Regions from separate parts of the Homo sapiens genome. Here regions 2, 3, 4, 5, 6 and 7 are each reported to be linked to region 1. Evidence: microRNA targets listed by miRTarBase, many of them from high-throughput screens and not tested one by one. Region 1 holds a microRNA gene; each other region holds the end of a gene's coding sequence. Distances are between the middles of the regions.

Region 1 (4,586 bases):
TTGGCCAAGTGCACTAATTCTTATATTTTATTATGAATATAAGAATAAATGTGAAATCCCATTTATTCACAAAAATCTCCTGACCAAATGAATGTGAAGAACGTGCTGCCGATGTGTGTTGAGAAAATCTTTGCTTTACCATGAGAAAATATTGATCAAATATGTTTCTATAGCATCAAAACAAAAACTACCCATCTTAATATGTGTATAAAACATGAAAATGCCTATTAATTGCACATTTCTAAAATATAATAGTTTTACAAGTGTGTCAAAAAGTTGACTGAATTATATAAAGTAATTCTGGTTCTTCCTTTTCTTTATTAGTCCCTATTTTTGTGGACTTGAAGACTAAAAAAATCAGATCTTTTTTTCTGTATAGCTTGTAATTATGGAGAATGTTTCAAAACAAATTAAAATAGCACTTCACATATCAAGGACATCTCAGAATCATTTTCAAGTTTAAATTTTTAATTAACATGGATCTGATAGTAAACCATTAGCATAGGTTTAATTCTGAAATAATCAGCAATTGAGTACACATCTCCTGACAAGAAAACATAATAAATTTCTGATTTGTCACTAAGCAGAAACTTGGTTCCATATAGTAACGAGACCATCTGAGTCCTTCTCAGTTTCCATAGGTATCTGTCTTTGTTCTACCTCATTCTGTACCCCCTGCATGTGATGGAGTTGACAGTTATTCCTGTATAAATTTTACAAGGCTTCTTTCATGATAAGTACAAAGATTTCCACTGTAGTTTTCTTGCCTCCAATAATTAGCTTGGATTTATTGAACTACTATTTATACTAGTATAGGTTCAACCCAATATATCTTTTCAGTCAATTATTTTTAAGAAAATTTTTAGTTCATTATCTGTTACACGGTTAATTCCTTCCTATGTCCCTATGCTTTTCAAATATAAGATAATATTAGAATTAGTCATAAAAATGAAGAGGTGAAAAACACTTTAAAATTTACAAAACACTTTTATATCTTTTATATACGTTAGTCACTGTGACCCTAAACAGACCACTGGGACAAACACCATTTATATGTTTATTTTAGAACTCAGGATACTGAGGCTTACCAAAGTGTTTACTATTATACAACCATTAAGTGGTAGAGCCAGTCTTCCACCTCTAAAGGCTGGGTGGATACTTAATGTCCCTTTACAATGTATAGCAAGGATACTGATTAGAGAGCCATCATTTTTGATGAGGTTTTATACATTTTTCTACCTGTAAGTTAATCTCGTGTTCATTTATTTATTTGGAAAACATTAAGATTTTAAAATATGCACAACACTAAACATTAGGGACACTAAAAATTATTTCTGTTAGTGAAAAAATAGATATAATAATACAATGAAAAGTGGCAGAATCTAGACGATAATGAGATTGCTTAGGATCAGGCTGGTACAAACATAATTGTGGGTTTTACCATTAAAAGCAACGGCAAAACCCGCAATTACTTTTGCACTGACCTAATAATTCACAAAGAACCGAGAACAATTCAGCTTGGAGTTTTCGGGAAACAATGCGCTGAAAAGTTTAACTGCACATTATAGATAAATTTTTTAAAATGCACAAGAAGAGTATGTAAACAGACATTCTAAGAGGAAGAAGCACATGTTAAAAATAAAAACTTACATATAATGTTTAGGGACAAATATGTCATAATGAAGTTCCACAGAATCATTTAAAATCCTGCCAAGAAACTTGCCCTATATTTTATCCTTTTAGAAGCTGACTTTTTTTTTTTCTGTTTGCAATATGACCATATTTTTTGTTTTTTACATTCAACCAAGAGTTCCTTCCTGGCTTATGAATAGGTGAATCAAGCCTTAGTCCCAGCTCTGTCTGTACCTCCAACTACTGTAGATATTTTGTGTGTCTAGACAAACAAAAGAACGTGGTGATATTTCTTCATCCATACTGTAGGGAATGTGGAGAAAGTAAATTAATATTCTGAGTTCTTCTGAAAGTAGTAATGGCAAGCTTAATGGCAAACTCTAGGTGAGTTTCTGAGAGCAGCCCTGCCTCAGGTATCCACGTGGGTATCTCTCACTTCCTTCAGTTATCTACTCCAATACCACCTTTCGAGTAACCCTGTCCATATCCCTCAACTAAAATAACAACATCAGCACTCCATCTCATCTCACAATTTTTATGCAAATTACCTTGCCTAATTCTTCTCCACGTGTCTCATCAATATCTGACACATGATGTATTTACTGGTTTGTTTTCTGCCAGTATTCTGTTTCCCCGTTAGAATAGAAACTCCATGAGGACAGAGAATTGGTGAGTCACAAGATGTATCTCTAGCAACGAAGACATAGCCCTGCACATACTAATACTTGATAAATATGTATAGGATCATTAGATAAGTGAATGGACATAGGTAAAATGTACATGAAAATGAAGGATTTTTCTTAGTTTGGTGGTTAAATCATTATTCTGTGTCATTTCATCAGAGTTTAGCAGTAGACTAGCCACCTTGAATTTCACATTCTTTCTCTACTCCATGATGCAATGTATTGTCAAAGAGAGATGAAGAGCTTGATTAAATTATTATGTGCTGATTTGTGCATAATTGAGTCAAATAGAAAATAACTGATATATTAATATTTATATGAACATCTGGGAACTTGTATATAATTCTGTCTAAACTTGAAACCATTCCCCTGAAATTTACTTGTTAAAAAAGCCCTTTCTAATGTTTTATTTGTTAGTAACTGCCTTTATTGTCAAGCCTTTAAATGCTATTGCTATGTTAGCACATTGATACACATAGACATGAACAGTTTTCCGGAGGGCAGTTTCACAAGTAGAATTAATTTTAGTCAATTTCACTTTCAAAGCTTCAAACATTATCATGAATCAAGAGAAATGCAATGCCTGCAAGAAACCACCACCTACGACACAGTATCGCTGTGAATTCTGAGCATATGCACTCTAAATACCAGGTTTTATGTCATTGCATTTCCTGTCTGGCTTTGAATGAATTCTGCCTTACAGGACTATTAGCAAACAACAAAAATGATAGCACTTCACAAGCCAAGGAATAACTAACCTACTTAAATATGTCTTCCTTTTGGATAGATTAAAAATGCCAGCAGTTAAGCAGCTGATGTATCAGCACGTATGGCAACGGAGGGATTTTTGCAGGCATATGCACTTAATCAAATATTACTTTTCCCATCACTGCCTAGAATCTATGTAATTTAATTAACTTATGCTTCAGTGGCATTTTGGAAATGAAGTGGATCTGAAGTAAGCATTGGATAGGATCTACTTAGCATTCCATCACGGAAAAGTGATGCATAAATTTAAATCTTTCGATAATATTATGCTTTGATTTAAATTGGTTTGAAAGATTTTGGACTGTTTAGTAAGTTTGCAATCCTTAAATAATTAGTCACAGCCACGTTAGAAAAAAATGGGTTTTCATTGAGTTTTGATACTGGATTAAATTTACAAACTTATATGCCTGTACACACACACACGCGCACACACACACTCAGGCACATACGTATCTGGGTATGTATGTTCATGCATATGTTCACATTTTTATTGAGGTAGAATATGAAGAAAAGAGCAAATATTATAAGTATACAGTTTGATGACTTCAAAAATTGCACATAAACACCCTAATCAAGAAACAGAAATTCATCCATCCTCACAATTCCCTTCATATTTCCTTCCAATCACTAATCCTTACCTCTTCTCATCAAAGGGATCTGCTCTCCTGGCCTGTAATAGCATAGGTTTTACTTTCTTTTTTTTTTTTTTTTTTTTACTATATTTATATATAGTCCATATTTATAATCATGATTTTCTTCACAGAAAAGCATCAAAGTATAGAGATGTTTGTCTCACAACTCTCAGCAAGCTACTTAGCCTGAGATGGGATCACTTAAAATTTACTTCCATTTCTCACAGAATTGTGTCTCAGTGTAGTAACTAATTTCAAGATAAACTTTGGGGTCACGTGCAGCACTTAAATAGTTTGGAAATAAACACTTCCACTGTTCAATGATAAAAATCATTGCTCTCTGGGATGCAGAAAGTTTTCTACTCTTTGAAATATATTGAGGCTTCTTTGTAGGAGAAGGAGTCAATCTGATAATCATACCATCTTATAGATAAGTATTATCCCATCTCAAAAGGCACATGGTACATCATGACATGCCTTTGGTGAATCATGACAATGCAATTTTAGACACAACTAAGAACAGCAATAGTCTCCTGGTTATAAATTCCCTTCAGGCAGTGCCAGTGACAGTTGTATAGGGCTCCATTGGTGGTCACTCTCACTAAATAACATGGTTGTCATTTGTCCAAATAGTCTCCTGAGAAAACCAGTTTCTCACCTTAGGGAATTCTCCTCCTGAAAACATTCTGTTAACTGCATGGAGATGATAAAACTACATGCAAATACAGCAAAGCAGCACTCTCCATAGGACTTTCTAAGACAACAAAAATTCCCTGGCTGGGCACGGCCCCTGTAATCCCAGCACTTTGGGAGGCTGAGGCAGGCAGATCACCTGAGGTCAGGAGTTCGAGACCAGCCTGGCCAGCATGGT
Region 2 (4,586 bases), not on the chromosome of region 1:
CTGGGAGGCGGAGGTTGCAGTGAGCCAAGATTGTGCCACTGCACTCCAGCCTGGGCAAGAAGTGTGAAACTTTGTTTCCAAAAAAAAAAAAAGGGGATCATCCCAATAGATGCAAAAAAGTTCAATACAACTTGATGAAACACTCAATAAATAATGAACAGAAGGGAACTTCTTCAAACTGAATTAAGGCATTTATTAAAAACCTGCAGCTAACATCATACTTGATCAGGAGACTAAATGCTTTCTCCATCAGATTAGATAAAAATATTGTCATATCACAGGGCTATCCTTAAGTCAAAATGAACCATCCAAATAATACTCAGAAATAACGACAAAGAGTAAAGAGCAAAAAATGGGAATGATTCACATGAGACAATACTCTATGGTAAACTTTACATACTGATAAATTGATACCAAGTCCTTATTAGCAAAGAAAATGGAGTCAACATTGTATCATGCCAAAAAGAGTAGTTTTCCCCATAATAAAGGAAAGTGGAATACATATGATGGGTGAGGAATATGCAGAATCTGCCACATAACACCAGTAAGAAATCTCTATTAATAAAGACTCATGGGCCGGTCGCAGTGGCTCACTCCTGTAATCTCAGCACTTTGGGAGGCCAAGGTGGGGTGGATCACAAGGTCAGGAAATCAAGACCATCCTGGCCAGTACAATGAAACCCCGTCTCTACTAAAATACAAAAAATTAGCCAGGCATGTCGGCACGCGCCTGTAGGAGGCTAAGGCAGGGGGATTACTTGAACCCGGGAGGTGGAGGTTGCAGTGAGCCAAGATCGCGCCACTACACTTCAGCCTGGCGACAGAGCAAGACTCAGTCTCAAAAACAAAAGAAAACAAACAAAAATAGACTCATTTTGTAATGGCCCATTCATCACAGAACAATTAAACACTACATAAAAATTAAACCTGCTTACATATTAGAAATAAATTTCACTTCACCCACAGATCCAACACTTTAAAATGGATAGAAAAAAATGAAAACCAAAATGGATAGAAAAAAATTTTATTAACTAACTTAGGATAAAAACACTTCCTATTAAACCTCAGGTACCACTGCTTAAAGAGTATCATTCTCACATTTCCTTGCAAAAGTGGAAACCCATAATCCAAAGATCCTTTTTAAGAATGAGTCACAGGGGCCGGGCAAGGTGTCTCATGCCTATAATCTCAGCACTTTGCGAGGCTGAAGAGGATGGATTCCTTGAGGTCAGGAGTTCAAGACCAGCCTGGCCAATGTGGAAAAACCCTGTTTCTACAAAAATACCAAAAATTTAGCTGGGCATGGTGGCGTGCGCCTGTAATCCCAGATGCTTCGGAGACTGAAGCAGGAGAATTGCTTGAACCCAGAAGTCAGAGGTTACAGTGAGTCAAGATCGCGCCACTGCACTCTAGCCTGGGCAACAGAGTGAGACTGTGTCTCGGGAAAAAAAAAAAAGGCCAGGCGCGGTGGCTCACACCTGTAATCTCAGCACTTTGGGAGGCCAAGGAGGGCGGATCACAAGGTCAGGAGTCTGAGACCAGCCTGAACCACATGGTGAAGCCCCGTCTCTACTAAAAATACAAAAAAATTAGCCAGGCGTGGTGGCATGTGCTTATAATCCCAGTTACTCAGGAGGCTGAGGCAGGAAAATTGCTCACACCCAGGAGGCGGAGGTTGCAGTGAGCCGAGATTGTGCCACTGCACTCCAGCCTGGGCGACAGGGCAAAACTCCATCTCAAAAAAAAAAAAAAAAAAGAAAGAAAAAAGAATGAGCCACTGATAAATGCTATATATTTATAACTTTGTGTAATAACTCATTCATGATTAAGTTTTTGAGCATTATATAATAATTAATTTGCATCAGGCTTTCAAAATTACTTACGTTTATAGGATTTCTTTCGAGTGGATGTTCTCACATGATTAATTTTTTTAGACAGGGTCTCACTGTTGCCCAGGCTGGAGTCCAGTGGCGCAATCTCCACTCACTGCAACCTCGACCTCCCAAACTCAAGCAATCCTCCCACCTCAGCTTCCTGAGTAGCTGGGACTACAGGCGAACACCATCATCCCTGGCTAACTTTTCTATTTTTTGTATACATGGGATTTCTCCAGGTTGCCAGGCTGGTCTTGAATACCTGGCCTCAAGCAATCTACCCACCCCAGCCTCCCAAAATGCTGGGATTACAGGGGAGAGCCACTGTGCACAGCCCATGTGAATTTTAATTATTGTTAAAATGGAAGTTTCCTGTATTTTCCAAACTACTAACGTTTCCATCCAGTGTGTATTCTTCGATTCATACCATCCATCTCCAGTGTGCACTGACACGTGTCTTTGAATGGAGATGAGAGCAATGAGAGTTTCCCCATATTCTGTACATTTCTACAATTTTTCTCCAGTATGAGTCCTTTTATGGCTCTGAATAGAACTGGAATATCTGAGGTCTTTGGATTTTTTTCCAGTTAGTCTTTTCATATCTTTGGAAACTGAATGTATTCCCATATTCCTTACATTCATAGGATTTCTCTCCTGTATAAATGAGAATTATTTCTTTCCCTTTTTTTCTGAGACAGAGTGTCACCGTCATCCAGGCTGGAGTGTAGTGGCACGATCTCAGCTCACTGCAGCCTCAACCTCCCAGGCTCAAGGGTTCCTCCCACCTCAGCTTTCTGAGCAGCTAGAACTACAGGGATGCACCACCTCACCCAGTTAATTTTTTTTTTCTTTGGAGATATGGGGCCTTCTTTTTTTTGTTTGTTTTGAGACGAAGTCTCGCTCTGTCACCAGGCTGGAGTGCAGCGGCGCGATCTCGGCTCACTGCAACCTCCAAGTCCCTGGTTCAAGCAATTCTCCTGCCTCAGCCTCCCGAGTAGCTGGGACTACAGGCACACACCACCACGCCTGGCTAATTTTTGTATTTTTAGTAGAGACGGGGTTTCACCATGTTGGCCAAGATAGTCTCCATCTCTGGACCTCGTGATCCACCCACCTCGGCTTCCCAAAGTGCTGGTTTTACAGGCATGAGCCACCACGTGATATGGGGCTTTTTTGTGTGTGTGTGTGATGGAGTCTCACTTTTGTCGCCCAGGCTGGAGTGCAATGGCGTGATCTCGGCTCACTGCAACCTCCACCTCCCAGGTTCAAGCGATTCTCCTGCCTCGGCCTCCCGAGTAGCTGAGATTACAGGTGCCCACCACCATGCCCAGTTAATTTTTTTGTATTTTTAGTAGAGACGGGGTTTCACCATGTTGGCCAGGCTAGTCTTGAACTCCTGACCTCAGGTGATCCACCCGCCTCAGCCTCCCAAAGTGCTGGGATTACAAGCGTGAGCCACCGTACCCAGCCGATATGGGGCCTTCTTATGTTGCCCAGGCTGGTCTCAAACTCCTGGGCTCAGGTGATCCCCCTGCCTCCTGCCAAAGCACTGGCTACGCCCGGCCAAATGAGTTCTTTCATGAAGTCTAAGGTAATTTGAAAAAGTAAAGACTTTACCACACTGTTTACAATCAAAGGGTTTTTCTCCAGTGTGAGTCATTTCATGTCTTCGGAGGGAACTGCACCACCCAAAGGCTTTACCACACCTTGTACATTCATATGGCTTTTCTCCACTATGAGTTTTTTTATGTCTTCGAAAACAACTGGGATAATTGAAGGTTTTACCACATTTATTACATTCATAAGGTCTTTCTCCAGTGTGAGCTCTTTCATGTGCTTGAAGGGACGTGGGACATCTAAAGACTTTGGCACATTTTTGACATTCGTAGAGTTTTCCTCCACTATGAGTTCTTTCATGTCTGTGAAGGGAACTGGAACAACTGAGTTTTTTCCCACATTCCTGACATTGGTGGGATTTCTCCAGCGCGTGAGATCTGATTTCATGTGTCCGAAGGTAACCTGCGGAAATGAAGGCTTTACCACATTGTTTACATTTGTAAGGTTTTTCTCCAGTGTGAGTTCTAACATGAATTTGAAATAAACTGGGATAATCGATAGGTTTTCCACAGTATTTACATTCATAGCGTTTTTCTCCAGTATGCATTTTTCCATGTTTTCGAAAGAAACTGGAAACTGTGAAGGCTCTCACTATTTCCCTACATTTATAGGACCTCTTTCCAGTGTGAGTTCTTTGATGGATTTGAAATAAATTGGGAGAATTAAAGGCTTTCCCGCACACCTTGCATTCATAAGGTCTCTTTCGAGTTGGTGTTACTGTGCGCCGTGCACCACTACTGGGGGAAATGGAGGCTTTCCCATGTTGTTTCTGTTTACGGGGCGTCTCTCTCCATTCCCCACCACACTCAGATCGTTTGTGTCCAGCATGAGCTCTCATGTGCCTGTCCAGGAATGAATGACGGAGGAAGACTTTCCCACACACGCTGCATTTGCATGGTTTCACTCCAGTTTGACTTTTCTTGTTCAGGTGACAATCAGGAATCTGGCTGAAAGTTTCTCTGTGTTCATTCCCTTCTTTACGTCCACAGAGTCTCTCCACCAGACTTCTATGAAAAATGACAAACGCATTATCAATGCTTGGTTTATTAATGCTTTTCTACTAATTGACATGTCTTAAGACTTATGCTGCTACCA
Region 3 (4,586 bases), not on the chromosome of region 1:
GTGATCGTCCTATCAACTATAAAACTGAACCCGTAGGTACCGTCCTTAAGCAGGAGTACCCTGAAGGTGTCGATGTGGTCTATGAATCTGTTGGGGGAGCCATGTTTGACTTGGCTGTAGACGCCCTGGCTACGAAAGGGCGCTTGATAGTAATAGGGTTTATCTCTGGCTACCAAACTCCTACTGGCCTTTCGCCTGTGAAAGCAGGAACATTGCCAGCCAAACTGCTCAAGAAATCTGCCAGCGTACAGGGCTTCTTCCTGAACCATTACCTTTCTAAGTATCAAGCAGCCATGAGCCACTTGCTCGAGATGTGTGTGAGCGGAGACCTGGTTTGTGAGGTGGACCTTGGAGATCTGTCTCCAGAGGGCAGGTTTACTGGCCTGGAGTCCATATTCCGTGCTGTCAATTATATGTACATGGGAAAAAACACTGGAAAAATTGTAGTTGAATTACCTCACTCTGTCAACAGTAAGCTGTAAAAACAGAACAATGACATAAATCAAGGGAGAAAGAAAATGGGCACTTTATGTCTCAGAATTACTCAAATCAATTTATTTTTAGTTGGTAATGGATATAATATTTCTTAAAACAAAAGTAAGGTGTTAATGAATAGGTCTCTCCTTCTCCTCCTCCTCCTCCTCTTCCCTTGGGGGAAAAAAAAAAATGTGCTAATAAAACTTCCCTCCATGGCTAAGAGGGAAAACGCTTACATTCAATTCTTTAGTCATGGATGGTCTCGTTCCAGATGTTATTGTTCCAGGGAACTAAATTCATTCCTGATGCCAGATCTGATCGAGTCAGTATGTCTTCAGCTTGATCAGATTTTAAAATCAGTTTTGAAAGTGGTTCCCGACTTCTTTGCTTTGGGAGAATTTGGTCTTATGCTCATAAGCAGTTCATGAGTGACAAGTGTAGCAAAAGCCAGCCATATATTTTCAGAATCTATATCCTCAGGAAATGGTCCTTTTTTTTTCTATAAATCACCAACCAACTATCTAAATGGACATTTGGGGGAATTCCCTCCCAAATTTGATTTTGTTATTAGAAAAATGATTCCGTGAACACAGATGTGTTTTGAAGAAGTAGCACGTAATGGCTTTTATCTACCATCAACCTGATAAGGCACATGTGAAATGGAAATGTTCTCTTTCCTCTGAAGCAGCAAATTAATGTTGAAAACTTACATAGACAGAAAGTAGGTTTTGGAAAGGGAAACCACAGAGATTAGGGGGACTTAAAATTAATATAGGCACAGGAAAGAGAAAAGTGTGCGCTCCATTCTCAGTGGGGGTTCACCACAAAACACGGGCCCCAGGAGGGAAGCGCTGTCTAGGCACACGGCAAGGCCTTAGTAACAGCATGCTACACTGCTCGAGGTACGGTATGTCCCATCGCCCTGTGCACCGTAGAGACCTCAGTCATCTCAAGGAAGAATACATTTGCTTCTCCTTAGAGGCGTTCGAACTAGAAGCTATGCGTTACCTCTGATTCTGGAAACAGAATAGCAGCCACTCATTCTGCATTCCCATTTTTCTCTCCACGTGTTCTGGTGGAATGAGATGCTCCTTGGCACTATAGCCTGATGTCCCACATTGACCCACTGACCACACAGGAAAAGCAGCGAAACCTGCACCCTCTCTTCTGAGTCACGCCTGTGGCTCATCGGCTTCCCTCTTAACCTTTAGTGCCCTGAAGACTGCTGCCGCTGTCACCGTTGCGCTGAAACCCCATGGGCCCGTTCTGATTGAAGGTGAAGCCCACCAGATTATTTTTCAAAGTCTTAGGTTTCGGTGTATCTAACCTGCTCAGTAAATATGGACGCAATTAAAGATGCTCTAGGAAATTTGGGGACTGTATTTAATTTTTCTTTCCTTCCATCTGAGGAGCAAGGAAATCCTACTGCTGAATAGCTGTTAGTATCTATTTTACAAGATTTACTCATTTTCAGGTACCTAATGTAGCTGCTAGCATGCATGCACAACAATACAATTTATATGGTAAATGGAACCAAATAATGGCTTCACTGAATGTTATGGCTGCACTGAAGGGAAATGTCACGGTAAATAGCTGCCAAATTATGGATCATGCCGAAGTGTCACAACTGCACTAAAGACAAATAGCACTAGAGGCTATTGCCACTGTGACGCTTTTGAGTTATGAAGAAGGGTAGCGGCCTGATGCGAGGCTCTTTGTGTCCTCATTATAGCAAAGGGTTACTGGTGCAGGGGACTAGGAAAAACCCGTCCAGTGTGGTGCTTAGTTATTCATCCATCCCTTTCAGACCTAACAGCCACAGCCACACGGAAAGAGACTTTGCCTCACTTTTACATTCACAAACAAACAAAGGAGGGGGGAGCAGGTTTTATGAATGTAACTGTGCACAGGAAATGACTGGTAATGGAAAAAATGTTGTAATAAAATAATCTAATCAAAGAATATTATTAAATTTAACATAGTCTATGTCCAAAAGGCTTAGTTGCTTCTTATGCAGATAGATGTGTGAAATCTAAGCAGTAATGTACTTTCTCCCTTTGTAAAGACTTGGGGAGTAAGGACATTACCAACTAAATTGCTTCTTCGAAACTGAAGTGAGTCCCGGTTTGTTTCATTTTAATGGGAGGGTAATAAAGATGAAAGACCAACATTTTAACTGATGGATCCCTTAAGCTACAGAATAGAAATTTATTGTGTTTTGAGGGAATATACTAAATGCAGCTATGTAAAAATAAAATTCAAACGCCCAGGATTAAAATAAAATATAATCTGAAAACCTCATGTTCTCTCTTTCCCCAAACTAAGAAAGTGCACTGCATGCTGTTTTCACTTATTCTTAGAAAACAAGCATGAAAGATTCCGCCCATTCAGATAATGCCAAAAATATGTTTAAACTTTTTTTTATTCTTTTGAAAAATGATTTGTAAATTGAGGGTCATAGTTCAGCATCAGTTTCATCTTCTGGGATTATTGTTCAAGACCAGCCTCTAATGGGAGGTGAAACGGTACGATGGTCTCAACACCTTTCTTCTGAACTGTAATACATATCACAAAAAGTACATCCATAATTCAGGGCAATTGTCAGTCTTTTTAGAGAAGGGGCCAGGGTGGAACAATCCCAGTGAGTAAATTATTTCTCAGCGTGGACTTCTCTGCATGTCGGGCTTAAGGTCACCAGCCGGGCAGGGTGGAAGGAGCTTGCCTCTTTGAGAAACCAAGGAGTCCCAGTGATCTGTTACCATTTGGTTATGACTTCTAAAGAGCCAAATGCTATTCCTTCAAGCCTGTTTTGCAGGCAGAAAATACCAGCAGTGTCATTTAGGGGTTCCTTTGATGATGACTACTGCTGTTAACTGACCTCAGCATTAAAAAAAAAAAAATTCAGGGAATAGTTTGCAAAGAAATGAAGGAAGTTTTGCATGATATATTCTATAACTTGTCATTATATGATTTCATCTGGATGAAGTTCCTCAGGAGTAGGATAGAGCCTCTGTAAATGGTCATTAGTATTACATTCTGTGTTTATCTAATGAAAGTGCAGTGACAAGTAGCTGCTTCTTATTAAAATGAAAATCCTGCATTATGTACTTGAGGAACATTCCAGCTAATGAGGATGTAATGTCCTCAGTACAACGCAGACCTTCTTTTTGTGTTCACCACCACAAGATGCTGGAAGCTTGACAAATGATATCATTTAAGACACATGCCTGCCTTAGGGACCTGGTTTTTGGCTTCCTGTTTCTGGCTTTTATTTGGGTAACGTTTATAATGGCCACCCGACTTGTACCTGGGTAATGTTTTAACCCCTTCCCCAGAGTTCTCAATTAGCATGAATTTACTACAGTCAGAGTTTCCTTTAAATTGGGGTGGGGGTGCTAAGCACTGAAAATATCTTTCTTGATTACTTTACCATGTGGACATATGGGATAAATACTGTATTTCAGATTTACATAAAAGTAGATTAGTAATGCACAGCTTTCAGAATAAAAACTGATAAAAAAGACCAAGCACTATCAACTTTGGACAGTAATTTCCTAGGTGTTAAACAAGTTTTCTGAATACAATCTGGATGCAAAACGGCCTGATTTGATGAATTCATAATTTTCTTCTGTATACTTTCATTTTATTAAATATTTTATTACTTGGTTAAACACAAGAATTATCTATGTAAACTTCATGGGCTTTTTTGTTGAAAGTTAGATGTTCAGTAACTAATTTCCCAGTTATGGCCCAGAATTAAACATTTATGATCATATTTCAGAAGTCAAAATACAAAACTGGATTATCAAAACGGTTGGTGTGGTCACTTTAAACTGGACTATCAGTATGGTTGCCGTGGTCACTTTAAGCGGGATTATCAGTACGGTTGGTGTGGTCACTTTGGTTTATCATCAATACAGTTGGTGTGGTCACTTTAAACTGGATTACCAATATGGTTGGTGTGGTCGCTTTAAAGTTTGTTTTCATTTTTTTTCTATTTTTAATTCTTACGGGTATATAGAAGGTGTATATATTTATGGGGTACATGAGATGTCTTGAAACAGGCATGCAATGTGAAATAAATAAGCACATCATGGAGAATGGGGTGT
Region 4 (4,586 bases), not on the chromosome of region 1:
ACCAAGTATTGTGACTAGATCTTCAGACATGACCTGTACTCCACACAGGCCAGAGAGAAATAGAGTTTCAAGTTATTCTGCTGAGGCACTCATTGGAAAGACATCTTCTAATTCAGAGCAGAGAATGGGGATATCAATTCAGGGTTCCAGAGTTTCAGATCAGCTTGAAATGAGAAGCTATCTTGATGTTCCCAGAAATAAGAGTTTGGCTATTCATAATATGCAGGGTCGTGTGGACCATACTGTGGCCTCAGATATCCGCCTTTCTGATTGTCAGACGTTTAAACCAAGTGGAGCTAGTCAACAGCCCCAGAGTAATTTTGAAGTACAATCTTCAAGAAACAATGAAATAGGTAACCCTGTATCATCATTGCGGAGTATGCAGTCCCAGGCTTTTCGAATTAGTCAAAACACTGGCCCCCCACCAATTGACCGTCAAAAGAGATTATCTTACCCACCAGTTCAGAGCATCCCAACAGGAAATGGTATTCCATCAAGGGACAGTGAAAATACTTGTCACCAAAGTTTCATGCAGAGCTTACTTGCCCCTCACCTCAGTGATCAGGTCATTGGGAGCCAGAGGTCACTCTCAGAACATCAGAGGAATACACAGTGTGGTCCATCCTCTGCAATTGAATATAATTGTCCCCCAACTCATGAAAATGTCCATATTAGAAGAGAGAGTGAGAGTCAGAATAGGGAAAGTTGTGACATGTCGTTAGGTGCAATTAACACCAGGAACAGCACCTTGAATATTCCTTTTTCAAGTTCCTCTTCCTCAGGAGATATTCAAGGTCGAAACACAAGCCCCAATGTTTCTGTACAGAAATCCAATCCCATGAGGATTACTGAGAGTCATGCCACCAAGGGCCACATGAACCCTCCAGTCACAACCAACATGCATGGGGTTGCAAGGCCAGCGTTGCCACATCCATCTGTGTCTCATGGAAATGGCGATCAAGGCCCTGCTGTACGTCAAGCTAATTCTTCAGTTCCCCAGAGATCAAGGCATCCCCTGCAAGACAGCAGTGGTTCCAAAATTCGTCAGCCTGAAAGGAATCGTTCTGGAAACCAAAGGCAAAGTACTGTCTTTGATCCAAGTCTTCCCCATCTTCCTCTCTCTACTGGTGGCAGTATGATTCTTGGACGTCAACAACCTGCCACAGAGAAGAGAGGAAGTATTGTTCGTTTCATGCCTGATAGCCCACAAGTACCTAATGATAATTCAGGTCCTGACCAGCATACACTATCACAAAATTTTGGTTTTTCTTTTATTCCTGAGGGTGGCATGAATCCACCAATAAATGCTAATGCTTCTTTCATTCCACAGGTTACTCAGCCTAGTGCCACTCGAACTCCAGCCCTCATCCCGGTAGATCCGCAAAATACTCTGCCCTCCTTCTATCCTCCATACTCTCCTGCTCATCCTACACTGTCCAATGATATTTCAATCCCCTATTTTCCTAATCAGATGTTCTCAAATCCTAGCACAGAGAAGGTAAACAGTGGAAGTTTAAATAACCGATTTGGATCAATTTTATCTCCTCCCAGACCTGTTGGGTTTGCTCAACCAAGTTTTCCTCTTCTCCCAGATATGCCACCAATGCACATGACCAACTCTCACTTATCCAATTTTAATATGACATCTTTGTTTCCAGAAATAGCCACAGCGCTTCCTGATGGCTCAGCAATGTCACCTTTGCTTACAATAGCAAATTCCTCTGCCTCTGACTCTTCCAAGCAGTCCTCAAACAGACCTGCCCATAACATAAGCCATATTCTAGGTCATGATTGCAGTTCAGCTGTTTAAATACTGATAAACAAAATGTAAAGGTAATGAGTGAGATTACAAATGTATTTGTGCGTGCATGTGCACAGACATGTACATGAAGAGAAGGATTGTGTGTGTGTGTCTGTATAATCAGTTTTCAGTTATCTTCTGAATGTAGGGAAGCCATGTCAGATGCAGATACTGGGTTGTCAGAAAACAAGTTATCTTTCGTTTTCAACTGCATGGTGTACTTTTTTATTTTCCAAGTAGATTTACATTTCCAAGTTGATATTTCCTAAATACTAATTAGCTGGAAATTGGGGGAGATCATCTTGTCATGTACTGGGTAGTAGGAGGGAGCCTAGACTTTAAACTTGATTGTTGATAACTTATGGAATATGTAGGTAAGTTGCTACTGAAAAATATAGGCAGCTTGATAAAACACAGTGGCTCATAATCAAGTGCTGGCTAATGTCAGCATCTAGAACAGCTTCTTACCTATGACAGATGTTGAACTGATGTTGAGTTTAATGTCCGTAGTTAAAGTCAAGCAGTTAGCAAATAAATAAAAGCAATCAGCCTTTATTCTCAAAGTTTGGTTTAGATACAGGCTTCTTTCTAAATTATAACAATGCATAAATTATCTGAATTTTATGTCTTGTTCTTCAAATTAGGGAGCTGTGTTACCCTTTAATGTGCCAAGATTATTTAAAGCAAAGGTCTTCCTTAGACAATTATTTAGCCGTAAATATAGAAAGCTAAAAAGTTAAGTACATACATATTCTCCGTTTTGTGCTTGCATTTTGCATCGGGTCATAAGGGTAAAAGCAGTTAGTTGTATTGTGGAGTTTTGCATGGGTGCAGTTAACAATGGATGTTTCATCAGCTGAGTTTAATTTAGTATTCTCTCTTCATTCTATTTATTTGGTCTTGAAATAAATTCTTTTGCATTCATTTAAATATTAGGATTGATCAGGAAATAGTGTTTGTAATCTACACGTTTATTTGAGCCTTACTTTAAAAATATTTCTGAACAGAGATTTAAGCTCTGTCAGTATTTTCATTTACTGATAGCATTTATATTTTAAATATGGCATTGTATATTTCATTATTATCCTTCATAACAGAATTATAATGAGAATATGAATTTGTTATTTTTCTTGTTGGTAGATGTGAAATGGTGCTTCAAAAAATATATAGTCTTTCTGTATGTCTCTGTGTGTGTAAGTATGTGTGTGTGTGTGTACACATATTTTAAAGTATGAATTGGTCCTTTAAAAACAGGCCTGCCATCTGAAAATGGGAAATTGAGACCTGAGACCTGCTAAAGCATAGAAGAACTTGATATAGGTAGGGTTTTTTTTTTTTTTTTTTTTTTAATAGATGGAGTCTGGCTCTGTTGCCCAGGCTGGAGTGCAGTGGCGTGATCTCAGCTCACTGCAAGCTCCACCTCCCGGGTTCAAGTGATTCTCCTGCCTCAGCCTCCTGTGTAGCTGGGACTACAGGCACGTGCCACCACACCTGGCTAATTTTTGGTACTTTTAGTAGAGACGGGGTTTCACCGTGTTAGCCAGGATGGTCTTGATCTCCTGACCTCGTGATCCACCTGCCTCGGCCTCCCAAAGTGCCAGGATTACAGGCATGAGCCACCGTGCTTGGCCTAGGTACAGGTTTTTAAAAGCCCCACAGAAGTTTATAATACGTTTAAAAACCCATATTAAAATTTGAAAACTTAAAAAAAAAACTAAGAAAACAATGGCATATATTCCTTTTCTTAAACCTGTGAAGTCCATTACTTTTTGTTCTTGTTATATTCTGCCAAAAATGGGATGGGGTGGGAGAGATGCATAGAAATTGTTTTATCTGCCTTGTTAACAAAGTGAACTCAAGGACCAGCTTTTCTTTTCTTTCTTCTTTTCTTTTTTTTTTGAGACTCTGTCACCCAGGCTGGAGTGTCGTTAGGTGCAACTAACACCAGGAACAGCACCTTGAATATTCCTTTTTCAAGTTCCTCTTCCTCAGGAGATATTCAAGGTCACTTTGTCACCCAGGCTGGAGTCTACAATGGCAGGATCTTGGCTCACTGCAGCCTCTGCCTCCTGGGTTCAAGCAAATTCTTGAGCCTCAGCCTCCCGAGTAGCTGAGATTACAGGTCTGTGCCACTACACCTGGCTAATTTTTATATTTTTAGTAGAGACGGGGTTTCACCATCTTGGCCAGGCTGGTCTTGAACTCCTGATGTCAGGTGATCCACCCACCTCGGCCTCCCAAAGTACTGGAATTACAGGCATGAGTCACCCCTCCCAGGCCCCCCCCTTTTTTTTTAATCCTAAAAAGCTTCCTAAGGGTTGGTCAGAGCAGTTAACTCCAGTGAATACCTCTTCTAAAGACTCAGCAAAAGGGTCATTTGTGCCTCTTTAACTGTTCTTACCAAACTGTCCTGTCTCTTTTCTGCTGCCAACTAAGCAGCTTCCTAGGGACAAAAAAATATACAATATTTTTTTTTTTCTTGCTTACAAAGCAAGAACAACCTGTATTTTCTTTCTTCAAAATGGTCTTGGGGAAGAATAGGAGAGCTTCATGAATAAGTTACTCAAGACAACAGATAAACACAGTAGTCAAAACTTTTTATTGAGGAAAAATGTGGCATTTATGACTTGCTTTTTAATTCTCTTAACTGAATTTTAAGCTGCAACGTTCAAATTTTTCTTTGTACTTGAAAGGTCCAGTGTGCCAATTTCAAGAAGGACAGTTTTCCATGTGTTTGGCTATTCATTTCCCTCTCTCCCTCTCTCATCTGTCTGTCTCTCACTGC
Region 5 (4,586 bases), 47 Mb from region 1:
TGCAATGGCACAGTCTCAGCTCACTGCAACCTCTGCCTCCTGGGTTCAAGTGATTCTCCTGCCTCAGTCTCTCTAGTAGCTGGGATTACAGGTTCCCACCACCATGCCTGGCTAATTTTTGTATTTTTAGTAGAGACGGGGTTTCACCATGTTGGCCAGGCTGGTCTCGAACTCCTGACCTTAGGTGATCTGCCCACTTCAGCCTCCCAAAGTGTTGGGATTACAGGCGTGAGCCACCAAGCCCGGCCTTATTATCACTTCTTACTCCCTTATCTGTGTTGGCAAGCTTGGCTAAAGTACAAATAGTAGTAAATACAAATAACAACTCTCCTTCTCACATAGGAAAAAATAAGTGGGTGGCCTAAAAACAAATTTGAGAACTCACCTTAGAACTGAGAATTCTGAATACCTGTCATATGCCTGCTTGATAGAATATTCTCAAAAATGTTGCTCATTTTTTTTATATGCTACTGCTCCTGAAACTACTGGTTTCAATCTGTGAACTGAGTCCCATGAGGCCACTGAACTCAAGGGCAGATTACCCTTGGTGTACCGTGTCACACTGAGTGAGGACCAGTAATTTTTTCGTGTATTTCATGTAGTGTTTTTTGTGTTTTTTTTGTTTGTTTGTTTTAGCTTTTAAGTTGTTGGCATTCAGGACTTTCAACTCCTTTAATGCACATGATCATATATTTAGTGCAGTTACCATGTCGCACATGTAGAATCAAAAGGCAGTTTATTGAACCTCCTTATAGAGAAATCTTGCTGAGCTTTTAGGATCATAATTTTTATGGCTTGCATATGTGCTTTGGCATATCATCTTATTTTAAGTTTTGTCCCCTGCATTTATAATCTCATTTGTTAGGGGTTTTGTTTTTGTTTTAGGTGTACCTGAAGGAAATCTTAAAAGAAATTGGTGTTCAGAATGTAAAAGGGATCCACAAAAACACATGGGAGCTGAAGCCAGAGTACAGACACTATCAAGGAGAAGAAAAGAGTGACTAAGAAGACTCCTAGCCAGCATGCTAGTGAAACGACTAGCAGCGATGCTATGCAAAAGGCGCTGATACTGGAAGGCTTGAACACCGTATGTTAATAGGGGTTAAGTGACAGTACTTTGATTTCTCTCGGTAAATTTTTTAAACCTGTAATTCTTGTAAAGTTTCTTAACTGTTTTTTTGAGGAGAAAGAACAGATTTATTTATAGACTTAACTTGTATTAAACCAGATTATTCACAGTAGGAATAGGGGTTGGAGGATTAAGAGGGTTTTTCTTAAATATTAGCTTTTAATGTGTACAATTAGGAAATTTTTTTAAGTGAGGACTCTCTACCCTTGCCGTATCTAAGGAGCTGAGGTAATACAGATCCAAGGAGAATTGTATAGCAAGAAAAAAACAGTCAACTACAGAAACTCTTAAAAGGAATAAAAACCCAAAGTTCCTTATTTTGAAATTGTCAAAGAACAAAGCGGTGTTTTTCTTTTAAACAGGTGATCACGTTTCGTGTTCATACTCAACGTTAATAAAAGGAGAGAGTTTGTAGTGAAATGGCAGTGTTCATCATTGGCTTATTTTACCGTAGTGATGCTGAGATGAGAAATGTGCAGGATCATGGTCAGTTGATGTTTCTTTTATTTGCTTTTAAGATAATTAGAAATTAAATATCTTTCCAAAATTTGAAGATATGTCTCCCCCAGTCAGATTATAAGCTTCTCAAAACTGGCTTGCCCCCAGAATTTTACTGCTTACCCAGCAGACATGTATTGACCATCACATGGCAAATGATATCAGCAAATCAAAAGATGGGCGTAGGGGTCCAGCCGAGACAGAAAACGTTAGTTTCAATTCCTGGGGCATTAAAATGTTGCTTTTCTCTTTCTCTTTAATTAATTTTTAAATGAAAACAATACATGTATATGTTAGTTTTTTCTAGCACAACACAATATTATATATTAAGCGATCCAAAATCATACTGTCAAGACCATCAAACAAAACAAAGAAGCTTAAGTGAACTAAGCACAGGGAAAAGTTGTTTTTTCACTCGTTCATTTTGTCATCTGCTTCTAGATGCTGCAATCAAGAAGTAGCAAATGCCCAAGTTGCCATAGTGTTTGCAGGAAAAAAAGAGAAAAAATAATAAAAATAAGGAAGGAGCAATGCCAAAAATTGAAGAAAATATTATATAATTAAAGCAAGAAGATATCTATCCATTGAGAAAAACAATTTTTATATTATTTGCTTTTAGCAGCAAAGCATTAGAATTCTGAGATTGTTATAGCACTAAGAAGATTTTTATTCTGTGTACACACTGAAAAATAAAATTCTGAGTAAAGAAAGTGTTCCCATTCCCCACTCCACCTCAGATTTTCTTATGTACAGGCACCAAATGTGGTATGCCCATCACCTTCTAGTTCCTGATGACTGGAAGCTCTGTGTCAGGAAGCCCGTGGATAATGGTCTGATAAATCTATATAGAACTGAGGATTCTGGATACCTGCCATGTGCTTGGTTCATAGCATGTATCTTCCCCAAAACCTTGTTTTTTTATATATTTGGTACTGCCCTGAAACAGACTGTGTCTCCTCTGCTGATGTCTTTTGTTTTGGGGACAGTGCCTGCCATATTGAACGAGGTGGCTGTGCCACAAGAGTTCCCAGGGCAGAGCTGTGTCTTATTTGAAGCTGTGCTTTGGTTTTTTTGTAAACTGGTTTTTTCTGCTTCTTTTAGTTGCCTGTTACCTCAGCACACCTGATTGCATGAGCTTGAGTCTCTTAAACACTTATCTCTTCAGTAGGATACATAATTTAGGTGCTAGACTGATGCTGTTTCTGATTACGTTTTTGTTTGTTTGTTTGTTTGTTTTTGAGACAGAGTCTTGCTCTCTGTTGCCCAGGCTGGAGTGCGGTGGTGGTGTGATCTTGGCTCACTGCCACCTCTGTCTCCCAGGTTCAAGCGATTCTTCTGCCTCAGCCTCCCAAGCAGCTGGGATTACAGGCGCATGCCACCACACCCGGCTAATGTTCGCATTTTTAGTAGAGACGGGGTTTCACCTTGTTGGCCAGGCTGGTCTTGAACTCCTGACCTCAAGTGATCTGCCCACCTCAGCCTCCTAAAGTGCTGGGATTACAGGTGTGAGCCACCGCACCTGGCTTAAATTGCTTTCTTATTTAATGTTAAAATGTGGGTGCTGGCCATGGAGGAGGTTTTCCCTTCCACCCAGGTTCCCTTATTCTTTTATTTCAGGACTCTCTTACTCTGACAAACAGACTTTTGACAAAGATCAATAAGTAGGAATCCTAAACCCTTATAAACTGTGAGAGTGAAAGGAAGACAGATAAAGAAGATGCACACTTCTGGTAAGATGTCACATCATAAGACAGGAAGGCCATATTTTTTTCTTTTTTGAGACAGATTCTCGCTCTGTCGCCCAGGCTGGAGTGCAGTGGTGTGATCTGGGCTCACTGCAAGCTCCGCCTCCTGGGTTCACGCCATTCTCCTGCCTCAGCCTCCGTTGTAACTGGGACTACATGCGCCCGCCACCATACCCAGCTAATTTTTTTGTATTTTTAGTAGAGATGGGGTTTCACCATGTTAGCCAGGATGGTCTCAATCTCCTGTCCTCATGATCCACCTGCCTCAGCCTCCCAAAGTGCTGGGATTACAGGCAAGCCACTGCTTCCGGCCAGGAAGGCCATATTTAATAAATGATATTGTTAAACTCAACTGATACACTGAGGGGATGCTTTAAGTGACAAAATATAATAAAATTATAGTTGTGGCTGGCCATGGTGGCTCATGCCTGTAATCCCAGCATTTTGGGAGGCTAAGGCAGGCAGATCATGAGGTCAGGAGTTTGAGAAAAGCCTGGCCAACATGATGAAACCCCAACTCTACTAAAAATACAAAAATAAGCCAGGTGCAGTGGCAGGCACCTGTAACCCAGCTACTTGGGAGGCTGAGGCAGGAGAATTGCTTGAACCCAGGAGGCAGAGGTTGCAGTGAGCCGAGATCTCGCCACTACACTCCAGCCTGGGTAACAGAGCAAGACTCCGTCTTGGATGGGCGAGAGGGGAGATATAGTTGCTGGGCATTGGAAAGATTTGAAATTACATGTTACCACAATAACTTCTTTTTTTTTTGAAACGGAGTTTCGCTCTTGTTGCCCAGGATGGAGTGCAATGGCGCAGTCTCGGCTCACCATAACCTCCACCTCCCAGGTTCAAGCGATCCTCCTACCTCAGCCTCCCGAGTAGCTGGGATTACAAACATGCGCCACCACGCCCAGCTAATTTTTTGTATTTTTTAGTAGAGACAGGTTTTCTCCATGTTGGTCAGGCTGGTCTCGAACTCCGGACCTCAGGTGATCTGCCCACCTCAGCCTCCCAAAGTGCTGGGATTACAGGCGTGAGCCACTGCACCCAGCTACCACAGTAACTTCTAAAGTGATAGATCTGCTGGGTGCAGTGGCTCACGCCTGTAATCCCAACACTTTGGGAGGCCAAGGCGGGCAGATCACCTGAGGTCAGGAGTTCAAGACCAGCCTGGCCAACATGGTAAAACCCTGTCTCTACTAAAAATACAGAAA
Region 6 (4,586 bases), not on the chromosome of region 1:
GTTAAAAGTCCATTTAGTTTGGGGCCTTGTCTACTCTTTTTCTTGCTAGATGAATAGCAAAGGAACAGAAAAAGAACTTTAAAAACTAATAATTTTCAGATAATGACTTTTAAAGGAGAAAAATCGGCTGGGCACAGTGGCTCACGCCTGTAATCCCAGCAATTTGGGAGGCTGAGGCAGGTGGATCACAAGATCAGGAGTTCGAGACCAACCTGACCAACATGGTGAAACCCCGTCTCTACTAAAAATACAAAAAAATTAGCTGGGTGTAGTGATGCACGCCTGTAATCCCAGCTACTCAGGAGGCTGAGGCAGGAGAATTGCTTGACCCCAAGAGGCCGAGGTTGCAGTGAGCCGAGATCACGCCACTGCACTCCAGCCTGGGTGACAGAGCAAGACTCCCTCTGTCTCAAAAAAAAAACAAACAAAAAAACAAAACAAAAACAAAAGGAGGAAAATCGAGAGATATTAAAATTAAAGTTGGTAGTAAGAAATGGTTCTAACTGGATGGCAACTAAGCTGTGTGCAGGGATGCCAAAGAAATATGATTGATATTTTTCTTGGGGAGGAATAGTTGGGCAATAAATGGCTTAACCCTTCATTCAACTTGAACATTTTGTTCTAGTAGAAAGTGAAATAGTTTATTCATCAATCACAGAAAATATTATTTAAAAATCATGCAGGAATGGATAACCAATGTCTAGAAAGTAGGTCAATATAGGACTTCAGCACAATTTTTGAGGACAAAGTCCACAAAGTAGTAACACAATACCTGTAGGACTGACCTGATTCCCAATTGCGGCTTGTTTTTGTTACTTTCTCACTGCTGTTACTCAAAAATCTAAACAGCAAGTAGAAATTTGTACCAAGAAAAGCTGCACTTGGCAGGGAAAACATAATTCAAATTGGAGCAGGCTCCTGATAATACATATCAAAGGCCTTAAAGTTACACATATCCCTATGACAATTATCCTAGCCAATGACAGCAGTGACAGGCTCCAAGAATTTAGGTCAAAAACTCATGACAGTATCATTCTTACAAGTCAACTAATTTTACCATTAAAAAAAAAATCTCATTCTAACATCAAGAAAAATCTTGATGTCTCAGGAAATCGTCTCCCCTCACTCATCTGAAAAAAGCAGTATATCCCATCTTGGTAGCCGACTTTATTCACTCAACTTGATTATACACTATTTTAGGCAGGTGTGTTTGGTTTTTTGGTTTTGGGGGGTTTTTTGTGCAGATTTCTTTTGTGTGTGTATGGTCTTTTTACAAAGTTCAACTGCATCCATATGGGATGATTCACTAGTTGAGGATATTCAAGATATGCAAGTATTAGAAGCATTAATAATAGAAGAGCCTCTGAAGTGACTCATTTCAAGGAGGCTTTAGAAAGATGCGGTCACTTAATCTGGTAAAAAATCACGTTCTGGGAGGGATTTTCAGAAATTTCAGCATATAGAGAAGTGACAAGGATAATAAGCAGTACAACATACTTGAGCTTGGGTTTTGAAATCAGATATGGGCTTGAATTATCTGACCGAATTACTCTGTGTAAGTTTCTCCATCTGAAAAGTAGGCCAAATGAGAAGAGCTCCTTGTAAGAGGAATAAGAATATATAAGTGAACCATGGGATATCTGCACCATGCCGGGCACTTTGAATGTATCATCTCATCTAACTGCCATGCTCTATGAGACAGCTATTAGTCCTATTTCACAGACGAAGTAAGGTTAAAAGGTTAAATTCCCAGAGGTTACATGTCTAGTAAGAGACAGCCAAGATTCACTCTCAATAATAGAATTCTAAAATATGCATTTCTCTTAAACCAGGATTCTTTAAATGTTATTAACCAAGAGCATTTTTCTAGGTTTTTAAATAGGATTATCATAAATGTACACTAAACAACTTCCTCCACATCAAAAGTCACTATAAAACATTCTCAATAACCTTCATAGTAACTTGAAACAAGCCAATTTAGGAAATTACCAAACCACCTAATTGGATATATTATATAAATTTATTTGTTCGTTGTAATTTTTTGCTTTTCTGATAATCATTATCCCACAAAATACACATTCCAAGACTGAGGAAAGTGAGGTAACTAAAAGTGCTTTCACAATACATTCATGTTATTGTGTCCCGCAATCTATAAAGGCAACCCACTTACAGTATATGGATTTTAGCTTTGGTATCCAATTAAATATCCTCAAAAATGAATCATTTTTAAAGGTTATATGGTAAAATTAAAACATCTGATTATGTAATTATGTAATTCTAGCATAAAAAATTAAAGTATCTTTTTATTCCTAGAATACAAAATAGGAATAACTGCTACATACTTAAATTGTGCTTACGTTTGATTTTCCTATTCCAACACAACTGGCCCATGAAAGGTCTTTCTTTTCTCTCTATATTATCACCATTATTGCTCAATGGGCAGTATCTAAAAATAGAATCTAGAAAGCCAGAAACCACAAAAATAACATCTTGGGGCCAGTTTGAAGCAAAGTAAACAGAATATACAATGACAGACAAACAGGCAGAATCACCTAAGACGAAAACAAAATTCCACTTCATTTTAACGAATGTAGTTAAATTGAATAGGCTCATTATCAAGAGCTGAACACGGCTCTCTGTTCTTTCCGGTATTCTAAAAGATGCATAAACACAAAAACCATCCAGTTCTAGATTTGAAAATTGAAGGGAATCGCTTTTAATCTATTCTGGCTCAGGGGATTGCTGTAAAAAAAAAAATTAAATAAAGATGTATATCACACAATTACCTGGTTGTCTAATTTATAATGACAAGTCATGGGAAGCCTATTTGCAGGAATTGGTTCTGACTTGGAGAAAAAAAACACAACTTCTTGAAAAGGTAAAATAGCTTAAAGCATTTAATATCTAAACAAATCAATCTGTTAATAGTAGTCACAAAATATGCTTAATATAGAAACCCACATTCATGTTTTTAAGAAAAAAGTGTAAATTGTATTCCACCTCAAAACATAAATTAACCCGCTTAAAGAATCTTCAGCGGTCAAAGTCATGGTGAATTTTAAACAACTTCAGAGTAAAATAACAAGTACTTTATACTGCTTTATATCTAAAAAATGCTTACAACTTCTCATAAAAATAGTTTGAAGCAACTATTTTTTCTTTTATTTTTTAACAGACACGTTCAACATTACGGGCAACATTTTTAAAACCTTAAGCTTTACAGACTTTCAAACATTCAAATACTGTGGTCCCTTTCCTTTGATGTGGTTTATTCAGCTAGAAAAGAAAACATGGTAGACAACTTAATACATTTTCACCAAATTGAAAGTAGTACAAAAATTTTAGGACTCTACCGAACTACACATCGTACCTAATGTATCATTAAAAATAGAAGACAGTATTTTCTTCAGCAAATAAAACAGCATACTAATATGCTGCTAATGCATACCTTTTAATGTGTACTGTCATTCATAAATTATTTACAACTGCTACTGTGTGAAGAGAACTAGAATGTAAATTTTCTGCAAAACTGGAAAAAAAGCAATACAAAATTTGTGAAAGCCTGTGTTTTATACTATACAAAAGTCAGTTTTTCTCTTCAAATACCAGATATTGTATGCAGTGATATTTTGGACACATTATAGTAATTCTTGAGGATGTTTTAGTGCTGGAGGTAAGTTTACAGGCCTCGATTCTTCATCAAGGAGTACTAGATCTTCTATTTCACTGCCTCTGTATTTCCTTTTACATATTTTTACCACCACCTTTTTCTTGAGAAATAACTTCAATGCTTCTCTTGATGCAACTGCTTTTGCATTTTCTTTGCTTTTTCCACAGCCAGTGCCCAAATACACAGACTTGCACCTCAATTCACAAACAATACTTTCTTGAGAGCTCTTATTTTGAGGCAGATCTGCCAATTCTTTTAGTGGGACAAAAAATACATCCAGTGTTGCTTTCAGAGCCTCAATAGCTGCATTTAGGAGCTCTCCATGATTCACATTGGGACTAAAGCCACCAACAGCTACCAACTTCCATGCCACCGTTTTATATAGTCTATTGAAAAAAGGTTGCTTCTGTTTCACATCTTCATTGGTTAACTTGCAAGAGAATTTGACAGAACTCTCACTTGACTGTGAAGTACTTTTAGAAGGCAACTGTGAGGTGCTAGTCTGAGAACTACTCTTAGAAGCCAACTGGGACACACTTGCTAAGGAAGTGCTTTTGGAAACCAGAGATCCACTGGTCTGGGAGCTGCTCTTGGAAGCTAGTAGTGATGCAGCTACCTGGGAAGTGCTCTTGGAAGTTAGCAGCGATGTATTTGTTGAAGAGCTGCTCTTGGGAGTCAGTAAGGATGTGCCTGATGAGGAACTGTTTTTAGCAACTGATGATGAAACACTTGCCTCTGAACTAGTTTTGGAAGTTAACCCACTTGAAGCTGTCTCTGAACTAGGTTTGGAAGACAATAGTGGCAATTCTACCTCTGAGCTTCCTGAGGAGCCCAACAAGGGCACCTCGATCTCTGAGCTGCTTTGAGAAGCTGAGGCTGAAGAGCCTTCCAAAGCACTCTTTTTAGGTGATCCACT
Region 7 (4,586 bases), not on the chromosome of region 1:
GATCCCCTTAATGAAATTCTTTAAGAAAAAAGAAGGTTCATTTGCCTTAATCAAGTCAATTCTTTGTCCCCAGTGAAGAGCTTATTGAATACAGACAGAAACCAAGTCCTTTGATATTGAACCTCTCTTCCAGATAGACCAGAAGGATTTTGTACAGATGTCTAAGAGTGGTCCTCAGCTTCCCTGACCATATGGGCCTGCTTGCTTCCCAATCAACTAAACCAAGCCCTTTCTCAGCTTGAAAGCTTTCAGGGTAAATGTTGTCAGCATGTAGTTTCCATTTGTGATGTGGAGACATCTGACCCACCCAGCCTTAGGCATTCATCCTCCTCAGTGTAGCCAGAGTATTAGTACACGAGCCACAAGGGACCAACGAGCTCACCAAACATTTGTCCATCCTTCTGGGACCTGGGAATTTAGTCTTTGCAGGTGTTTCTTGTTTTTCTCCTTGGCCTGGGTTGGCCTCTGGATATCAGGCTGCCATATTGGTGTGTCTGACCCATGCTTGGCTGCAAGGCAGCTGCCATCCTTGGGCATCTTTCCTGGTCATGTGTGTTCCTAGGTTGTGAAGAGCAGGGGACCATCAGAGTCCTGGCAGCTGACAATAAATCTCCGTTCTTTTGTCCACAGAGGATCAAATTCTCTCAGAACTTGGCCACACCAATAGGATTTATGGCAACGTGGGGGACGTTACAGGCGGACAGTTAATGAATGGGAGCTTCTCCATGGACGGGACAGGACAATCCTATCAGGACTTGAGGGATGGGAGCCCCTATGGAATCCCCCAGTCTCCATCCTCCATATCGTCCCTGCCATCCCACGCTCCTTTGCTCAATGGGCTGGATTACACGGTGGACAGTAATTTGGGCATCATTGCGCATGCAGGGCAGGGAGTAAGCCAGACGCTGAGAGCCATGGCTGGGGGACCCACCTCTGACATCTCCACAGGAAGCAGTGTAGGCTATCCCGACTTTCCAACTAGCCCAGGCTCTTGGCTCGATGAAATGGATCATCCTCCTTTTTAAACTTCTCTCCTCCCCACCCTACCTGCCCCCCTGGCTTGAGAGAATATCTTCAAGGATCAAAAGAGACTTGCCTTTTAAGGATCGAAAGTACGCCAATGTGAATTTCCATTATTTTCAATGGAAGTCCTCCGCTGATTCCTAGAAGGCTGTGAGACCACACTAGGGCATTGTTTCCCTGGGGAAGCAGTGGGAGAGCAGACTCATCTCAGAACACAGCACAGGGGGTAATGGCCTAGAGCTCTAGGGACACTGGCTTGTTGGGTCTCTCCCCTGCTGTTCTGCTTAGGGGCTTGGCTGCTCAGTGCTTTGGTAGCACAAGGTGACTGTGATAGGCCCCCTTGGCCTTTGGGAACTTTGCTCCAACTGGTGTGTCTCACACAATGCCTCCCAAAACACTGCTCTCACCAGAACTGAGACTCCTAAGGTAGAGGCCTCACAGCCCTTGAGTAAAATAAAAGTGATTTCTGGACCATCCTTATTGAACCCTATATTTCAAAATGAAAAGATCAGTTATTAAAGGTCAGTGAACACTTTGATGGCCAGTTTGATATTAAAAACATGCCCCCTCCTTTTTTATTTTTGCTGTGAAGATATGAATTCTTTCCTACAAACCAGAGAATATGAACCTGTTTTGGTTTTTAAGTGTCCCATCTATATCATTGACTCTGATGGCAAGAGGTGGTTTTCATTGCAGGTGACTGAGGCTGAGCTGAGTAGCCCTGGACCACCGCTGCAGATTGCCTGAGTCGTCCCCTTGGTGCACAGTGTGCCTTCTTCAATTGCTTGTATCATTTATTCCACAAGACAGGCTGTGGGCTGTAAAATGAGCAAAACTAAAATGTGGGGAGAACAAAATGACAATCAATCAGTGAACATTTGTAGACACATTTGGATTCCAAACCTGCAGTCTGTTCAGCCATATCGGCTGATGCCAGTCTTCCAGAGTTCCCCATCCCTTGTAGGGTGAAATATTTGGAGTCTGTTTTGAAGGAGTTGGTTTAGATGAGCTTGCAAGTCTACCCCTCTGAAAGCTTTCTCTGCTGTCCTAGCTGACTCAATTGGAGGACAGTTTTGGTCATTTCCAGGAACCAGCAATTTTTTTTTGGCCTACCTTGGTTGGGAAGAGTAATTTAGGGAGCAGCCCTAAAATTGTCCAAAGGGTTCTAAGTGGTTCTTGGGCTGCATCTCTCTGGATTGCTGGCTGGACACCTGCCATGCCTTGGGCTGCAGTCCCATGGTCAGAAAGCCAGAACTCTCTGGCCAGTGGTGGTGCAGGGACTCCCCGTTGTGCAGGTTTGCAGTAGCAAATCACTAAGCCTGAGGCCAGAGCAAGGCCAACCCCCGCTTTACGAGTTGCCACTCCTGCGACAGACTGCACTGCTGTGGGAAACGCTGTCCTGAATGGTGCTGCAGCTCCCACCCACCTTGTGCACCCATCTACCATCAGGAAGCTCTCCATGTGCAAACTGGAATTTAGCCAGCTGGAATTTATTCCTGTCCCTCTGGGAAGCTGTGTTTGCTTCTTCTGGCCTCCCATTCTCTTAAATGAGATCAGCAGAGTAGGAAAGGGTGAGAAGGCATTGCCTATCACATGAAGTGATGGGGCCAGAGACCCTAAGGACCCTTCCTTCTACGAATGGTTGGTCACCTTTTGAGGACTGCAAAGACTTAGGCATGTCATAGGCAGACTAAAGGAAGAATACACAGTTCCTCTTGGACTGCTACATCTTTTGTAAGCCCTTTTCCAGGACTAAACTAAGTTCAATTAAGTAAGTTCTTTAAAACAGTAAATTCCGGGATCAGCCTTCGGGCCCTCTTCTCTGACCAATTTTATAGCGTACCCTCGTTTTTTGGTGTGCTGCAGTGGTCATGATTTTTGCTTGAGAAGTCTGCAAACATAGACACTTCTCTTGAGGTTCCATGTTTATGGATGATGTTGTGTTAATCCTAGCCAATTCTGTGCTATTGGGAATTCTCCAATCATGAACACTGGGGTGGGGAGGAAGACACAAATGCCATGTGAGGAAAGGAAAATGCAGTCGTCTTTTTGGAGGATGGCTTTTTAAATACACCCTTCTTAGCAGGCTGCTTAAAATACACAGGAGAAAAGGCTCTGCTGGGCAATGAACCAGATGAAAAGCTGCCCACCCAGATCACTGTTGCAGGTTGACTATTTGGCTTAGCAACTCATGGGATTTCAGAGGCCCTTGAAGTTTTTGGTGAGTATAGTGTGGGGGAGAGCAGGCTTTTTAAAAGGGGGGGGGGCATCCTCCTCTGTGTAGCACTGTTTAAGATCACTGTAAGTAAGTTGACCAGTTTTTGTAAGTTAATCATACTAATTCCCAGTTCAATAGTGGAAGGAGAGGCCTTCCTCATTTATACTAATAATATAATAAATCTCTTGAGGAACTCAGTGAGCAGTTGACGAGGTCAATAGTTCTTTGGCATCAGTAGGGCTGGTTAGCTGGAAAAACCCTTGAGAGCACTGGCCTGAAAACCAGGAGAGCTTTGTTTTCCAGAGCCACCTCCCCAGAAAGCAGCAAACACTGCTGCCTGTTTAGAAGCACAGCCACAGTAGGTCTAAGATTTTAAATGGATCTCCCTACAGGTTGGGTTAGCATTATGGGTGGGCTGGTGCCACTAATGAGCCATTGCATGACAGGACTCTTCTGGGGTTTGGAAATGGAGAAAAGCCGGGCATTCATTACTTTTAGCTTCTCTTAGAGGCACTCCTCTGTTGCTTGGAAGTCTATTATGGGGTATAAGGTGCTACATGGTAGCTGTTTCCCCCCTTGCTAAAATGACATGGATGAATTTTAAAAATGAAATGAGACCTTCTAGAGGCAACCATTATCTGCAGTGCCTGGCTGGTCGACTTTAGAGTAGGAAGCTCTTGAATCCAGGAGCAAATTAGTTAAAACCCCAAGTTCCAGTGGTAACTGGTATAAGCAAAATGGAAACTGAGGGGCTATGGAGGAATCTCTGTTTGTTGGAACGTAATGAAACCATGGAGGAAATACCAGATTTAAGGGCTAAGAAGCTGGCCCGATGGGTAAATCAGTGTTGGGAGTCAGGTTCTTGGCCCTTCAAGGACTTGCTATGCAACCTCAGGCAAATTCCTCTCAGTCTTTGTGCTTTCTCTTTCTTGTCTCATCTGACAGTTATGAATATAACGTAAAATAAAGATCAACTATCATTGATAACACTGTTCCTGCAAATGAATACTGTGAAACATCAGGGAAAGAGGAAAAAATTAAGCCACAAGAAAACCATTTGGCAGTGTCCTTAAACTTTTTTTGGGGGGGGGCAGTGTAAAACATGAAACCTAGTAAGATAATTGGGCCATTAGATCTTCATCATTAAACTCACTTTGCAAGGAAGTGTAAGAAATCTGTAAAACAAAAGACATTCCTATCTCAGAAGCTCAAACTGGTGATTTCCAACTGCCTCTTTACAGGAGGGGGCTCAAGGCTTCTGATGAGCAAAGGCTGTGTGTTGTATGACAGTCCACTCTCTGCACCTACACTTCCACGTGCCACGACTGACAACTTGGTTATAACC

The links. Region 1 holds the annotated microRNA hsa-miR-548as-3p (UAAAACCCACAAUUAUGUUUGU, at 1,419-1,440, opposite strand). A microRNA usually pairs through its seed, bases 2 to 8, with sites in the 3' UTR of a target mRNA and lowers its output. Matches are read on the target gene's strand: a 7mer-m8 pairs with bases 2 to 8, a 7mer-A1 pairs with bases 2 to 7 and ends in A, and an 8mer does both.
Region 2: the mRNA of ZNF101 is a reported target of hsa-miR-548as-3p. Seed matches in the 3' UTR shown: 7mer-m8 at 1,262-1,268.
Region 3: miRTarBase lists PTGR3 as a target of hsa-miR-548as-3p. Seed matches in the 3' UTR shown: 7mer-A1 at 2,362-2,368.
Region 4: the mRNA of USF3 is a reported target of hsa-miR-548as-3p. Seed matches in the 3' UTR shown: 7mer-m8 at 3,125-3,131.
Region 5: the mRNA of GTF2F2 is a reported target of hsa-miR-548as-3p. Seed matches in the 3' UTR shown: 7mer-m8 at 1,266-1,272.
Region 6: miRTarBase lists CDKN2AIP as a target of hsa-miR-548as-3p. Seed matches in the 3' UTR shown: 7mer-A1 at 3,204-3,210.
Region 7: the mRNA of LHX4 is a reported target of hsa-miR-548as-3p. The part of its 3' UTR that is shown has no 7-base or 8-base seed match.

The regions. Positions count from the first base shown.
Region 1 is chr13:92,487,053-92,491,638 of GRCh38, reverse strand. MIR548AS (microRNA 548as) reads right to left here and starts at 1,476; the gene lies at 1,419-1,476. The region is part of intron 7 of GPC5 (glypican 5); the gene reads right to left. The region is part of intron 1 of GPC5-IT1 (GPC5 intronic transcript 1); the gene reads right to left.
Region 2 is chr19:19,679,093-19,683,678 of GRCh38, reverse strand. It overlaps ZNF101 (zinc finger protein 101), which reads right to left. Exons shown (of 4, transcript NM_033204.4): 4 at 173-4,498. The coding sequence ends at 3,379. Among named protein-coding and RNA genes, the nearest start is that of ZNF101, 13 kb to the right of the region's middle.
Region 3 is chr18:75,197,312-75,201,897 of GRCh38, reverse strand. It overlaps PTGR3 (prostaglandin reductase 3), which reads left to right. Exons shown (of 2, transcript NM_175907.6): 2 at 1-4,586. The coding sequence ends at 482. Among named protein-coding and RNA genes, the nearest start is that of PTGR3, 9.5 kb to the left of the region's middle.
Region 4 is chr3:113,652,168-113,656,753 of GRCh38, reverse strand. It overlaps USF3 (upstream transcription factor family member 3), which reads left to right. Exons shown (of 7, transcript NM_001009899.4): 7 at 1-4,586. The coding sequence ends at 1,810. Among named protein-coding and RNA genes, the nearest start is that of USF3, 42 kb to the left of the region's middle.
Region 5 is chr13:45,282,557-45,287,142 of GRCh38, forward strand. It overlaps GTF2F2 (general transcription factor IIF subunit 2), which reads left to right. Exons shown (of 8, transcript NM_004128.3): 8 at 886-2,337. The coding sequence ends at 1,005. Among named protein-coding and RNA genes, the nearest start is that of SNORA31B, 52 kb to the right of the region's middle.
Region 6 is chr4:183,446,480-183,451,065 of GRCh38, reverse strand. It overlaps CDKN2AIP (CDKN2A interacting protein), which reads right to left. Exons shown (of 3, transcript NM_017632.4): 3 at 2,002-4,586. The coding sequence ends at 3,639. Among named protein-coding and RNA genes, the nearest start is that of CDKN2AIP, 4.1 kb to the right of the region's middle.
Region 7 is chr1:180,273,555-180,278,140 of GRCh38, forward strand. LHX4 (LIM homeobox 4) reads left to right here. Exons shown (of 6, transcript NM_033343.4): 6 at 631-4,586. The coding sequence ends at 1,025. It overlaps LHX4-AS1 (LHX4 antisense RNA 1), which reads right to left and starts at 1,127. Exons shown (of 5, transcript NR_037642.1): 1 at 1,097-1,127; 2 at 383-558. It also overlaps a transcript of ACBD6 not described here.